Homo sapiens: one gene and its partner. The protein of the gene in region 1 interacts with the protein of each later gene in a biochemical or structural test. Each region holds a gene or a part of one and is shown on either strand. Other genes may lie near its edges.

Region 1 (7,673 bases):
TCTTGCCAGGGCAAGCTGCCGGCTACACTCAGCATCTTCCCTTTTTCTAAGAACAAAGCATGTTCTGTTATGAGATCTCTGCCCGCAGCAGCTGCAGTTTCAAAAATAAAACATGTATAGAAATGTCTTCTTCTTTAATTTTCTTAGTAAGGGTGCATAAGAGAGGGCTAGATGCTAGTAAATATTGTGGGGCTATACTTGTTTAAGATACTGAGCATTAAAACCCTACAACTCTTCCAACTTCCTGCTTTTACTAAATATAAGATTCTTTTTTTGTTATATGTTTACTAAAGTAGAGCAGGTTTTTAGAGTCGTGGTATGTATGGATTCAATAAAATGGAAAAAGGTGATAATGCTAGTTTTGGGAAATATTCACCCAATATGGTTAAACAAAGTTTCATTCTAAGAACCTCATTGTTTTTTCTGGATTTGTTATTTTTTTCTTGAGTATGCACATCCATGTAAATATGCGCAAATAATGTAACTGGAATTCTTTCACCAAAAATTAAGGGAGTGTGCTTTTTAAAAAACAAAAGGCACACACAAAGTATATACATTGGTAATATGCTTGACATAGTCATGAAAATTCTGTAAGTTACAGAATGTGACGATTTGGAACTTCATCTGGCCTCAAAACTGGCATTTACTGACTCACACTAGGTCGATGTTTGACTAAAGTCAGTTAATGATCTCCAAACTCTAGTGCATGCATTGTATGTTTTGGTATATGTTGCATAATTTATGTTTAGAACATGGTAAGAAGGCATAGCCGGCTGTAATTCATTTTAGAAAGACAAAACTGCTAGAAAGCAGCATAACAAGCTTAACTGATACCATGATATAAAAGATCATAAGAGGAAAATTTAATTCTTCATGTGCTTTATAAGTGTATTACTAATTTGGTGTTTTAGAAATGGCTGACAATGAAGATTGTTTCCTTTGAAATTTGAGTTATGAAGAATGCAGACACAGTTTTACCCAGGTGAAGAGCTAGCACAGATGATGTTTTTTGGGATCACAATGGAGGTTTCCTAGTTTTATAAAGTAGTCATCAAAAAACTAAAGTTCTGAACTGGACCAGAGATTTTCCTCCTTTCAACTTGAGGGGATTATGGCTTTAAACTGAAAACGGAGGTGTTGGAGGAAAGAAGGAATGAAAGGAGAAAGGGAATGGAAAAGTACAAAAGAGACAAAAGAATGACAAAAAATCAGAGCTGGAACAAAGAGAAGAAGAGGAGAGATGGAGAGAGGAAAGAAGCAGAAGACTAAGAAAGGAAAGAAGAGAAGGAGAGGTACAAGGGAGGGATGGCCAATCTCCTCTCATTGGTCCTCCAGAAAGGATGTTCTATTCTGTTCCTCTATACCAGGAAGGTGTTCCCATAATTCTTGAAGTGAAGGTCATTTTAATCTAGTGGAATGGGCCGTGGAAAGTTGGACCCTTAATTGATACCTAGGGATCATAAAAAAACGGAGTTTTTACTTTTAAGGAGCAAACTGGGGTTGCCATAAAAATCATTTTTTGTCGTATTTTCAAAAAATAACAACAAATATATTTAGAATCAGAGATTTATGAGAAAAAATGGGCTAAATTTTATATTTTATGCTTCATATTTTACCAAATCATATTTCATTAGGCATATCCCTAAGATCAAGTCATAATGAACATTATAAAAGTGTTTTAGAATGAAAACACATTTTACAAGATCTGGCAAATGGCCCACTATATTTCAAGTAGTATTTGATGCATATAATCAAAAGAAAGACTATGGAGTTTCAAACGACCTTTCACCCATGTTGGGGTTATTGTAAGTGGTCATTTAGTTTAGTGATAGAGAGCAGTAGGAGTTATGGAGGGTAAAATTCTAGGATCTTAATATACAAAATTTCTGACAAGGAGACAGTTTGATCTGTTCTACAATACGTACTTGCACATACCTGCTAATATCATCCTGCTCTGCAACATCATCATATACTTCTTGGTCATCTTCAATAGGTCTTGAAGGGGCACCAAGAGAGTCTTTTTTCAGTTTCAAAGAATCATAGTCAATCTCTACAGCAGTTGTTTTAATATAGCCATCTACCAAAAAGGGAAATATTTATGTTCAGGCAACTGTAGTTTAAATATTTTAAAGTTGTGAATAAAATATCAATTGCACATTTGCTCTTTAAACTTTCCCCTGATTTATTTTCTTGTAGTTCTGATTTGTAGACCTCCCAAGTAGACCCAAATTTTACTGTACTCTGTCAAAGTCTAATCCTGTTGTAGTTTAATGTAAGCCTACCTTCTATTTTAAATATTCTAAAGTGATTCACATGAAGCATTTTTTCTTTTTAACATCAATGAAAAACCTAATGCTGTTCGTTCCTCCTGGAATAATATAAAACTGTACGTTGTTTCCCACAATATAGATAACAGATGAGGTGAAGACGGAACTATACCTGCCATTTAACATTTTCCTCCCTTTGTCCACTCTGTAAAGTACTCCTAACTCGATGCCTATGACGAGTTCTGGAGGAATATGTACATTGAATATTGCCTCGCAAAGAAAATACTTCGAAGCCATAGAGAAATTTGCACTCACATGAACCCCTTGCTGTTCTGCCCAACCATTTTCCTTCTGGGTTGTCTGTGATGCGGATGATTTCAATTTGCTCTCCTTGCTTGAAGCTCAGTTCATTCTTTCCTCCTTTGACATCACAACAAGCTTTTGCAAGATGGATGACTTGAATAGGGCCTGTTAGCTGCAAAGAGAAAAAAATAGTCACAAAAGATTTCCTTATAATTTAGAAAATCTTTAAGGAATGCAATTTTGAAAGATATAAGTCTACAACTTGCTAAGCTACCTATAACCAACATTTACAGGGTTTAACCAGAAATTGAGGGTGAATGTTTTTCTTATAGGAGGGGTTAGGGAAAAATCACAGGGGCCAAGCAGGACCAGCTAAGACAGGTGAACATGTGCATGGGGTCAGGAGAGTGAGGCAGGGATCTGTTGACTAGGAATTCTGCAAGAGGCCTGCAAAGGCAGCCCCCAATAACTGAACAGCGTTTATGTACAACAATCCATGCTGTGTGCTATGTATCTTTATGGAATATGCCAGGATTCTGTTCAGAAGATGGAGTTTTTTCCCCTTTGCATTGTTTGTAAAATTGGAGCAGACATTACCTGCTATAAACAAGATAACATTTCAGAAATAAGCTTGTAAATCAAATAATAGCAAGCAAATGTTACACGAGGTTTTTCAAATTAATATTCTGAACAGTATGGTGGCTTATTGATAGAAGGATAATGATGTTGGTTAGACTATGAATCCTAAACTCTTAATTTTCTAATCCTAAATTGGTGTCTTTTCAACAGAATTTCTTGAATCTTTTGATATGCAAATATGCATGACGACTTTTGAAGAAGCTCTACCTTTAATTTATTGAATTTATGATGGCATTAATTATAAACATTTATCATTATCATGTACCACTAAGAAATAAAGAAAATAATGTAAGTTAAGTTATGATATGCCATGATGCTGATGAGGCTCAGTTCTCATATTTATTTAATTTTTTTTACCTATTATCTATTATCATCTTGTGAAAGGAATATGGCTGGTGAAGTCCTAGTTTTGACAGACTTTTGAGTTCATATTTAATGGTATGATTTCCATATCCTATCTTTTCTTACTAAAAATATTATTTGAATGAATGAGATAATGTAAAGCTGAATTCTCCAGAAGAAACATGGAAAAACCCCACATAATTCCTTTAAATCTACAATTTCTTCATGGAAAGTATACTATATAGATTTTTGTTATTTTTTTTTGAGATGGAGTCTCGCTCTGTTGCCCAGGCTAGAGTGCCGAGGCCCGATCTCAGCTCACTGCAAGCTCTGCCTCCCAGGTTCATGCCATTCTCCTGCCTCAGCCTCCCAAGTAGCTGGGACTACAGGTGCCCGCCACCACGCCTGGCCAGTTTTTTGTATTTTTAGTAGATACTGAGTTTCACTGTGTTAGCCAGTATGGTCTCAATCTCCTGAACTCATGATCCACCCACCTCGGCCTCCCAAAGTGCTGGGATTACAGGCCTGAGCCACCACGCCTGGCCTACGATATAGATTTTCATAAATTAATTGAAATTAATTTTTCACTTGAAAAATATAAAGATTGGTAGTCATGCATTCTGTATAAGTAAAATGTTCTAATATTAATACGGTAATCATAATTTTACTTACATATAGCAAGCTTTTTCAAAATCAAATGAGAATCTTATGATACAGTGTATGCTCTGCATTATTTTAGTTCCATAACAAACTTTCTGGAGTAGTATCATTTATCCTTACTTAAAAGATTAAGAATCAGCGGCTCAGAGAAGTTAAGTGAGAAGCCCAAGATCACATAACTTGTATGTGCAACTGGAATTTGAATCAGTTTGTCTGGCTGACTTGATGCTATACATTTTCCTTGCACCATGCATTGAACCTTTGCTTTAATGCAATAAATATACCGGGAAGTTATATATAAATCATTTTTAAAGAAATTTGAACCACATATTAAATGCTCCAGAGGAATAAAAATACTTAAAGAAACCATACAGTGAATTCTTTTTGAAAGAATAATTTTGTAATTCAGATAATCACCCTAAATATGTCTGACATGCCAGACCCATGCCAGATGAGCCATGTCATCAAAGATGGTGTAGCCAGGAGAAAATAGCCCCTGAGTGTAGCGTTTACTGGTGGTAGTAATGGTAGAAAACACACAATTACCAGAGATCAGAGAATACAGAGGTCAGAATCCAGACAGACAAAGAGGGATGAGAAACAGCAGTTATCAGAAGTCAGCATGTACACAGACTTAAAGGCAACAATATAACTCATGTATAGATACTAGCAATTAGAGTAGATCATGGAAATCTTATTCTGAGACAGGTCTGGTTCACCCTGGAGGCACTTGTGTCCAATGCCCCCCTATAATACATACCACAGGGATATTTATGTGTGTGATGCTAATTCATAGTATAAGTAGGCTAATATGAAATGCATTATGGGGAGAGACAAGATGGGTTTGAAAAGGTAAATATTCATTCACTCAATCAACATAAAATTTCCTGGGTGTCCACTAATTATGAACCAATATATTTATTTAAATTTTATTATATTAGTTCAGGGATAAAATGGTGTATTGGACAAAAAAGTACTGTTATGAAGATAATTACTCTTTAGAGAATAATGAATAAGTAATTCTTCAACTATGTAAGTTTTCAAGAATGGTACCCCTTTTGTGTGAAAGGTATAAAAAGATGTTATTCTTTCACTCATTAGCAAGCAAGCCCTTACTTTAAATTTCTTCTTTATTTCTTGTTCTTTCTTTTCTTTCTCTTTCTGTTCCTTTTTCTCCAGCTCTAACCTCTTCTTTTCTTCCTTTTCCCTTTTCTTCTCTCTTTCTTTGGATGCTTCTCTGTGAGTAAAAATTGTTAGGTTGTTTTCACATCTGCAGGTGTTGATGCGTCGGAACTCCCTACCTAGAAGTTTCTACTCACAACAGAAAAGGTGGTATCTGAAGTACAGTTGAAGGTAAAAAGCGAAAGGTTGTCAAAATCCGGAATGTGTGAGATTATTTTTAAAACCAGTAGGAGGCACACTGCTGAGGATACCTTCCAAAGGCTCTGCTTTCCCTGACAACTTGTGCCAGCAAGTGGAAGCCACCGTTTATAGAGGCCCCATTCTTGCTGTATGTTCGCATAAATAGAATCCATCTCTTTTTCTCTCTTTCATATGCACACGTGCCTGTGCATTCACAGGTACACATATAAACCTTGGCTCTGAAACTTGAGTCAGAATTGGTTGAATAAACACTGGGTAGAGAAAATTAAGGTATCTGAGATCAACATATGATAAAGTAAGATAATATATTCATTTCTACTTTCACCCACTTTCCAAGAAATTTCGTTTCCAAGAAACTTCTTTGTTTAACATCTTTCCACTTTAGCAGCTGACACTCTGACCTCTGGGCGTCATGATAAATTATTTTTCATAGCACCCCGTGGGTGGAGCTCTGTTCAGGTGAAGAAGGCGTAACATAAATTAACTCATCTGCCCAAGGATACACTAAGAGTAAGAAATCAGATTTCTGTCTCTGATTCCCTGACTGTGGTTTATCTCAGAGGCATGTCTCTGGCCTCTCACACAATAGCTTTTTAACAGAGTCCTTTGTAGAATTCTTAGAGAACTAAATAATTTTGGGTCCTTTAAATTGAAATAAAAGTTATTATACGCCAGTCATTTGAACAAATCAAGCTTCCCTCCTAGTGTTGTTATATACCCACTCTCCCTCATACAAAACATTATATTCATCTTTGAAGAAAACTGTCATGGTAAAAAATGTAATTCATACATGTCTTCATATGTTTCTCCTTCACTGTCTTGTTCCTGTAAAGAAAAACATTGATAATGATTAATTTTTATTATTTAAAAAGTTGACACACATATTACATTGCTTAGACTTAAAATGAAGGCAACAATGTAAATTTTTATAATTTGAACCACATATTAAATGGTCCAGAGGAATAACTACTTAAAGGAGCCATACTGTGAATTATTTTTGAAAGAATAATTCAAATACTCAGTAAAACAACTATTGTATGTAAGTTTGGCTTATTTAAAATATTTTTTTTCTCCTTAGAAATAGACTGGGAAAGCAAAAACAAAATTTCCTTTTCTATCTTGCTATATAAATCAGACGTGTAGTCAGACTTAAGTTTGTTCAGCACTACAGCATTATAATGAGTCAGTGTGATGACTAGTGTGTAACATCTTAAGCATTTTAGATGAAATAAGATTAGAAATGGAAAAATATCATTGCTCATAAGGATTTTCATTTGTTTGTTTTGTACCAATACGGAGTGAATCATAATACTTGTGAAATATTCTGATTATGTCAATATAATATGAGAAGAGAAAAAAATCTGACCTCATCTAGATTTCCAGCACCTAAAAGATTAAAAAAATAAAATTTAATACATTTGTAATAAGGAAGCACTTTAATGTAAGATTATTGGATATGATATAATAATATTCAAAATAGTTCATAATCTAACAGAACTTATGCTTTATCAAAGATACAGAAATAGAAAATCAAATACGTACTTTAGATCTTTACTATGGCTTTTATTTGTGCTGGTGACTTAATTATAAAATCATTTCATTGGCTTTCATAAAATAATGCAAAGGGCGAAAAATAATTAATACACTGTTTATTACCTTTATGAAAAGGGATGTCCATTTGGTTTTCTGGGCTTGCATGGAAAAAGGTATTAAAAAATCACTGTTTCACACCTTTTTACTTATTAGTTCCCAAGGATTTGTTTTTATGTATCAAACAAATCAAGTTAATTGGATTAAAAAAATTTAATAAGAGTTCAGTGTAATATCAAAACTAATTACTGAATATTGAAACAGAATCCAATATTAAGAGCAATAATATAATAATATTAATAATAAAAACAGTGTGGTGTTGGTATAAGAACAGGCAAATAGACCAATGGAATAGAGCAGAAAATTCAGTGACATACACAAATGTACATAAACACACCCATAATATACACATACACACACATAGAGCTGATATAATATAAAGGTAGCACTATAAATTAATGAGAAAAGGATGGATTGTTTAGAGTACAG
Region 2 (8,164 bases), on another chromosome or scaffold:
GGACACAATTTAACAAGAGAGACAATGGTAGAAAAGTAGGGCCAGAATCTCAACTTCAGAAGAGCCACAGGTATCTTCCTTCCAGAGGCAGGTTTAACATCACCTACGCTCCTTTCTGAGTTCAGGCTGGGGTGTTGTATGGAATGTCCTTCCCACATGAGATTTTTCCAGGACCATCTCCTGCTGGCTCATGGCAAGCTGTGGACCCAAAATGCCCTAAATCCATTGGCTGTGTTCTAAAGATTGTGTATATAAAAATATGTAACTCTTTATGTATGGACTTGATATGAGGCATCAGAAGAAAGAGGTAAACAGTGAACCAGGTATGCCAAGTACAGACAGGTTAGCCCTGGGGCCACTTTAGCAGTGGTGTCCCACTCTAAGAGTGAAGGGGTTTTTTTGCTTGTTTTTTTCATTTTGTTTTGTTTTGAGACAGGGTCTCACTCTGTTACAGCAGTGCAATTAGAGCTCACTGCAGCTTTGACCTCCCAGGCTCAAGCAATCTTCCCATCTCAGCCTCCCAAGTAGATGAGACGGCAGGTGTACACCACCACACCTGGCATTTATTTTTTTTGTAGAGATGGGGTCTTGCTGTGCTGTCCAGGTTGGTCTCAAACTCCTGGGCTCAAGCAGTCCTCTGGCCTCAGCCTCCCAAAGCACGGGGATTACAGGCACGAGCTATCATGCCTAGCCTCAAAGTGAAGTTTTATAAGAATCATTCCTGCAAGTCCCAGAAGACCCACCAGAAACAAGAAGGGTGTCTGTGGGTGGATGGAAGCAGAAGGCCTCCCTCTGGTCCTGGTCTTGATTCCTGAACACTACCCTGGGGCAATATGCCTTCAAAAGGGAGGAAAAACAGCAGACAGGAGGCAGAGGAAGAAAAACGAGAATTAAAGTAGCAAAAAAAGGTACAAGTTTAAAATAAGTTTTTATTGTTTTTTCTAATAACATAATAAATGCCCAATGTAAAAAGTTGAGGAAATTAAGAAAAAGATAAAAAATAAAATAACAATGACCTAAAATATGATTACTTGGAGGAAATGATCATTAAAATTTTTGTGTATGTATTGCTTTCTATGAAAATTTACACATATAAATAAGTTTAAAAATAATGGAAATATATGTGTATTAATACATATATATAAACATACATATGTACACATACAAACACAATACTAATTTATTAGCTCTTCTTAATTTTAATTTGTTGTGAACATCTTTCCACACAAATAAATAAATAAATGGCAATGTTATAATTTTATGGCTATATAGTATTCTATTATAGATATAACATAATTTACACACCAAATCCCTTATCAATGAACTTTTCTCAGTGTTTCACTATTATAAACAATGTTCCAATTATTCCCATGATATGTGCGCTTGTGTTTGTGTATTTGCAAATTTGTTCCATTCTTTCCCAGAAGTAAAATTGCTAAGTCAAATGTATACATTTTTTTAAAAGGCTTTTCACAAATGCTATTAAACTGCCTTCCAGCAATGTTGTACCAATTAAAAATTCCACTAGTAGGGTATGGATATCCATTTTCCTGTTGAACCTCCTATCACATTTACTGGCCATTTTGGGTTTTGTTTCTGTTGCACATATTTTTCAGTTCGAACGTTCATCTTTATTTTCTTGTTGATTTGTAAAAACTCTACATTGAGGGTTTTTACCCTTGCCATATGTGTTGTTGTTGAGTTGACATTTAAGAGAAGATTAAAACTAAAATAAAATAATAAGACAAGAAAATGTTTTAGCTAATAAAAATAAGAAAAAAAAGTTACTTTAAAAGCAAGATATAAGATTCAGATGAGACAAGTTCAAGAAAGCCAGAATAGAAAGAGGAAACTTTAAGGTAAAACAAGTAGAAAAATACAAAATATATAAACAATATCAATAAAATCAAAGAGAAGTTCTAGAACAATGACTACATTCTAATTTGTATAATAGAAGCTACTCATAAGAAAACAAAACTGGTGGTTGTGGAAGACAATATTACTTACCTTGGGTAGGCCAGGGACAGCGTCTCAGATCTTTAATCAAGTTCTTGGTAGAGATTGGCAGAAAAGATCAAAACGGGAATAGTATACAAATCTTTTGCAGTGCTCTATTCACTTGTTCAGACCATTAGCAAATCCTCCTGAGGAGTCCAAATCCATTTAAAGCTACATTTAAGACGGGCAACAGATAAAAAAGTAGGTAAGCAAAGAATTACAAAAAACAGGATGAAGTCTTGATGGGAGCAGGTTAATCTGTCATTTTAATCACATTGTCTCTTTGTCCACTAATTAGATCAAGAAGCTATTACAGTTGCAGACACTAAGAAGTGACTTCTCGTGAAGAAACAGAGAGAGAGGAGGAGAGAGGGAGAGAGAGAGAGAGAGAGAGAGAGAGGACTTATCCCACCTACTCCAGATTTCCAGATTTAGCGTAAGATAGATTGAACTAAACATGAGATTTCAAGGAGATATATAGCCTAAGAGTGTTTTTTTCTTGAGAGCATATGACACTTAGTCTGTCCGGAATAGTTTGAGAACAGTTTTACTATTTTTCCCATTTTACGTATGAGGACACTAAGGTTCAAAAAGGATAAGCGACTTGCTTCATCAAAGCGCTCCCAACAGTGAACTGTGGAGCTGGAATCAGAAACAACTCCAGACCAGTGCTGCCCGATAGAGATATAACTTGAGCCACATAGGTTATTTAAAATTTTCTAGTAGACGCATTTAAAAAATAAAAGAAACAATTTAATTAACTCTAATAATGTTTTATTTAGCACAGTACATTTAGACTATCATTTTAACATGTAATCAATATTAAAATGGGATACTTTACATTCCATTTTTCATGCTTGATCTGAAATATCTAATACATCTTTTACATTTACAGCACATCCTAATTTGCAGTAGCCAAATTTCCAATACTGAAGTACATTTCAAGTACTTAACAGTCATGTGGCTAGTGGCTACCTCCTCGGACAGCCCAATTCTAGAACTATGGTCCTCAAGGTGCTGTCTCCAGATTGGCTGTATCAACATCACCTGGGAACTTGCTAAATGTGCAAATTCTTGGGCACCATCCCAAACCCCCTAAATCAGAACCTCAGGTGGTTAAACACAGCAATTCATGTTTAAGCAAGCCCCTTCAGTTATTTCTGATACATGTCAAAGTTTGAGAACCATTGCTCTACCCAACTGCCTCTGCATCCCAATCCAAATAAACCCAGAGCAGCCATTGCGGACTAGCCCTGAGGACGAAGAGCCTCTGCTCTTGAGATAAGCAATTCTTGGCTAAATGAAGCTGGCTTTCTCTTGTATGGAAATATCCTAGTCCTAGCTATGGTTCCATTTCTTGGGATTATGGAATTTCCAGACACAATTTAAACATGGTTTAATTTGTCATTTTGTTTAAGGAAAAGGAAAAAAATCCAGTAACCTCTGTATACTGTCACCTTGAGTTAGTTACTTAACTTTTCTTTTCCTCAGTTTCCTCCTCCATAGGATGCAGATCATTTAATAAATGTTAGCAACTTTTCTTAAAAAGTAGTGTGTACAAAAAGAAAAAAGTCAGCAAAAGGGACAGATTTTTTTAAACTACAGTAAAAACAAGTAGTGGGCCGGAAAGGCAATATTATAGATTTTGAGCACAGAAGCAGAAGCTGATTCACTTATAATTTCTTAGAACATTAGATTTGCTGAGGGGGAAGGTAGGGTTCTTGCCAAAATCATTAAGGAGAGCGATTCTGAGTATGCCTTAAAGCAGAACTTTCAGTAAACAGGAATTACCTATAAAGAAAATCAGGAAGCCAAAGTGTTTCTTTTTATGAAGTTACATCCTGCCATAGAAAAGCTGGATAGGAAATAAAGACCGATGCACTCCCAACTGTATACTAAACCGGCAATTATTTCATCAAGGGAAATATGAGCAAAAGCTCAGATTCAGTGAAGGGGAAAAAAACATGAGAAGTTTGAATGTTATGAGAAACCAAAGACAACCAATGACTACAATTAAACGAGGTTTTTTGGGGGTGGGGCGGGGAATGTACGAACAAATCTCTGTCATTTCAGGTTCCTTAGTCGCCGCTTGGCCCCTCCCCCTATTTCAGTAATACTTCCTCCAGACTTTTGCTAGAAAAAAAATATAAATGAGTGTCCGCAGAAATAGGGGACTGATAAAATGATCCTAATCTCCTTCTCCTCCTCATTGTTATTTGTTGTGCGTTTCCACGTTTCAGGACAGGATTCTACTTTGCTCCGTACTCTTTTCAGTTTGATCAAAGAAAACGCTGCTATCACCGCCCAATTTTCCATTTCATCCTCTCACCCTCAAATGAAAAGACACCAGAAAGGCAAGATAGCCCTGTCTCGAGGCAGTTTCCCATGGTTTTGGGGGAATGGCAGGTGCCAATCTGCAGCAGCAGCTGCAACCTTCCGCAAAGCGGAAACTGCAGTTCACACTCTCCGCTCTTTCTCCCGCCCTACTCCGCCACCTCACAACTCCACACAATCCTTAAAAACACACAGACCTCCTCCTCCAACCTCGCATTTTCTTGCACACCCTGCACCGCACGCACCCTGGGATGCCCGCTGCCACAGTAACGCTCAACCCACTCGGCGGCCCCACCTACTGCCGTCCCGCCCACGCCCCAGGCGCCAATGGTTGCGGCTCGCAGCTCCCAAGGGGCTCTTTGATAGGGCAGCCGGGCCTGTCACTCTCGAGGCGCGCCCCGCCCCCTCCTCGCTCCCCTCCGGAGCTGGAGGGGCAGAGCATCAGCAAGAGTAGCAGCGAGCAGCCGCGCTGGTGGCGGCGGCGCGTCGTTGCAGTTGCGCCATCTGTCAGGAGCGGAGCCGGCGAGGAGGGGGCTGCCGCGGGCGAGGAGGAGGGGTCGCCGCGAGCCGAAGGCCTTCGAGACCCGCCCGCCGCCCGGCGGCGAGAGTAGAGGCGAGGTTGTTGTGCGAGCGGCGCGTCCTCTCCCGCCCGGGCGCGCCGCGCTTCTCCCAGCGCACCGAGGACCGCCCGGGCGCACACAAAGCCGCCGCCCGCGCCGCACCGCCCGGCGGCCGCCGCCCGCGCCAGGGAGGGATTCGGCCGCCGGGCCGGGGACACCCCGGCGCCGCCCCCTCGGTGCTCTCGGAAGGCCCACCGGCTCCCGGGCCCGCCGGGGACCCCCCGGAGCCGCCTCGGCCGCGCCGGAGGAGGGCGGGGAGAGGACCATGTGAGTGGGCTCCGGAGCCTCAGCGCCGCGCAGGTAAGCAGGCGGCGGGGATGCGTCGCGGGAGGCCTCGGGGATGCTGCGGAGAAGCCCGGCCGCCGGCGCCCCCGCGCACGCCGCCCCCGCCGCAGGGCCCGGTGCTGCGGTCCCTTGGCCGCCAGGGCGCTCCGCGGGGCTGCCGGGGAGTCGGTGCTTGGGGTCTTCCCGCGGTTGCACCGGAGGACACCCCTGCGGGGTGCGGCCCCGAGGCAGCGCGGGGATGGGGACCCCATTTCCTCGCCCGCAAGCGGGCGCCGGGTGAAAATGGGAATTGGCTTGGGGGCGAGGCTGGCCCAGACTCCGCCCCCGCCCTCCTTTTGGGGCCCCCCGCGGGGACTGGGGCTGTGTGTGTTGTTTTAATGTCAGGGATGATGTAATCACTTAATAATTGATGCCCCGTGCTGCTTCCCTCCCCACCCAACCCCTGCCCCACTCCTCCACCTCTCGGCCTCCTCCCTCGGCGGCGGTCGCCTTCTCCAACCCATCCTCCTGCCTATTTCTGGCACCTCCCTTGCACTTCCCCCATCCTCCCCTTCACTCTTCCTGTGCCACCACCCACCCACCCTTCCCCTTTCCCCTGTGCTGGAGCCTTCCCTCCTCTTCCTCTGTCCCCCACCCCTCTGCTCCCTCCAGCTCTTTTCTCCTTCCTTTCCGGCTCCCTCGCTGGATTTCCTCTCTACTTCCCTAGATCCATGGCTGTTTTTGTTTGGGCTCCTCCCCTCTGTTATCTCTGCGGCCACAGGCGGAGGGGACTGGGCCAGAAGGAGGCCACCGAGCTTGGGCCCAGCAGAGATGTGCTGGGACTCACTGGGAAGAGGGATAATAAAATCACCCTTCTTGCCCCTCCTTCCCCCAATAAATCACACAGACTCGCCGGGTGTGTGAGTGTGAGTGTGACACAAAGAGCCCTTTCAGTGCATAGAGAGGAGACACACAAAGTACCCTAGGATAGGCACGATGCTTCTTGTCTCTCTTCCCTGGGGCTTCCCTTTCTTTCCCATGAAGCAGTTGATCTCTCTGAGTCTTTCCTGCCACATTTACCAAAAAATAAAAGAACCCCCGGATGCCGGGTGGCAGGTGTCGGCATTTTGCTGTGTTCAGAGACCGGTAGTGTTGACTGGCAGCTGCAGTGTTTCTTAGATTTAAGGGAACAGTTATCCCAGCAGTCTTAAGAGTTGCTTTACTTTTAAGGTAGCCTCCCCATCCCCTCGTTCTTTCCCCTGTCCTTTTGGGAACAAGTACTAAGAGCTGGGGTAGAGTAGATTGGTGTGGGGGTCACAAGAATTTTGTTTCTGAATCAGAATTAAATTGTTATTTGATAAGAGGGAGGCAGCCTGAATGGCTTCTTCTCTCAAGTCTAAGAGGGCACTGTACTGAAGTCTTTTGAAATGAAATCCTGTCTGCCCAGTGATGTTGTTTTACCCTTTTATTGAAGTAAATACCTGGGGACGTGGATAAAACGGTCTAGAGTTAGCATTTGGAAGACCACTGCAGACTGCCTCTTGCCTGCTTCAAGGTAGTCTTGGGACGCCTACTTCCTTTCTCACCACCCAAGCAACTGCAATACTTTCCACCCTATGTACTGTCTTCTTCCCCAGTCCCTGCTCCATGGGTACCCTGTATTCAGATGAAGGGACTCACAGACTTTTGGAGGAAGTGGTTTAACTATCTGAGGCTTTGAGGCCACTTGGCTATGAACTGGGGCTGTAGAGAATCTTGACTGAAGTCTAAACCATTTGATGTTCCCTTTAAGGAAGAAATGTTAATGTAAATCTGGGGGCTTAATGTTCCGTTTTGTAAGCCAGTGACTATTACATGCTTAATCGATATTGTCAAAACTTAAGTTGAACCTGTTCTTTCCTAAAAGTATGGCTCCTCGACTATTTTTATAAGTAACAGAACTGTAGGTTTAGTCTTCAGTAATTTTATTAGAAAAGAGTTATGATTCATTAAATATTTACTTACACACTTTTTAAGAACATTCATCGTGGAACTTTTTACGATAAAAAAAGCAATAGGGTTAATGAGTGTACTGTAAAAACAAAGGGTCGTTTGTTTGATGCCAGACCCAGGAAGGAAAGCCAGAGCACATAAACTCACACTCTGTTGACCAAGTTTAAGAGACTTAATGATAAGGTTGAATGTGAGCAAATGCACACTCTGCTTTCTCCTGGGTCTGGAATCTCCAACCCCATCTGACTTGCTCGAAGTCCTTTTTAACCTTTGGGGCCCAGCTCAAATGTCATCTCCTCTGTGAAGCCGTTTCCATCTTCTCCTTTCCAAACAAATCATCATGTTTTGGTTTCAAACTTTGGCAGCAGGCATTATGTTTCGCATGAGTCTATTTCCACCATTAATTGGTCAGCACATTGATAAAAGGAACCTTATCTTACTTATCTTGTTTCCTACCAAGTTTTATCTTAGCGGGTATTCTGTTTCATTTAACATTAAACAAATGTGAGTTAGGTCTTTGGTATGTGCTCAACACCTGTATCAATTAGGCTAATGTTAGCAGGTGTAACAAATAGGCCTGCAAATATATAATGGCTCAAAAGCAATAGACGTTTATTCTTGCTCATTTAATAGTCAAAAATTCATGTTTCTGGTCGGTAGGTGGCTTTCCTCCATGCAGTGACTCTGGGTCCCACACCCCTATCTTGTAGCTCCACCATCCCATAGCTTATCATCGTAACCTGTTTCAGTTTACAGAAGGGGCAACAGAGAGTAGACGGGGCACACCCACTTTTAAAATACCTTAGCCTGGAAGTGCCACCATCACTTCCTCTCACATTCTTTACTTGAGGGCTAGTTATATGGCCACATTTAATTGCAAGGGAGCCTGGGAAATGTAGTTTAGCCATGTGCTCAGAAAAAAGATACAGAATAAATGTATTTTTATTGAACAGCTT

What was found.
Region 2: the proteins of FYB1 (region 1) and FYN form a complex in vitro, tested with the Homo sapiens proteins (2 studies listed by BioGRID and IntAct).

Annotation. Positions count from the first base shown.
Region 1 is NC_000005.10:39,132,273-39,139,945, forward strand, and holds part of FYB1 (FYN-binding protein 1), read right to left. Parts: intron 6,981-7,673; coding exon 6,961-6,980; intron 6,420-6,960; coding exon 6,385-6,419; intron 5,846-6,384; coding exon of another isoform or gene 5,611-5,845; exon of another isoform or gene 5,449-5,610; coding exon 5,328-5,448; intron 2,743-5,327; coding exon 2,583-2,742; intron 2,078-2,582; coding exon 1,936-2,077; intron 1-1,935. UniProt on the Homo sapiens protein: Acts as an adapter protein of the FYN and LCP2 signaling cascades in T-cells. May play a role in linking T-cell signaling to remodeling of the actin cytoskeleton. Modulates the expression of IL2. Involved in platelet activation.
Region 2 is NC_000006.12:111,870,056-111,878,219, reverse strand, and holds the start of FYN (tyrosine-protein kinase Fyn), read left to right. Parts: upstream 1-4,767; 5' UTR 4,768-5,252; intron 5,253-8,164. UniProt on the Homo sapiens protein: Non-receptor tyrosine-protein kinase that plays a role in many biological processes including regulation of cell growth and survival, cell adhesion, integrin-mediated signaling, cytoskeletal remodeling, cell motility, immune response and axon guidance.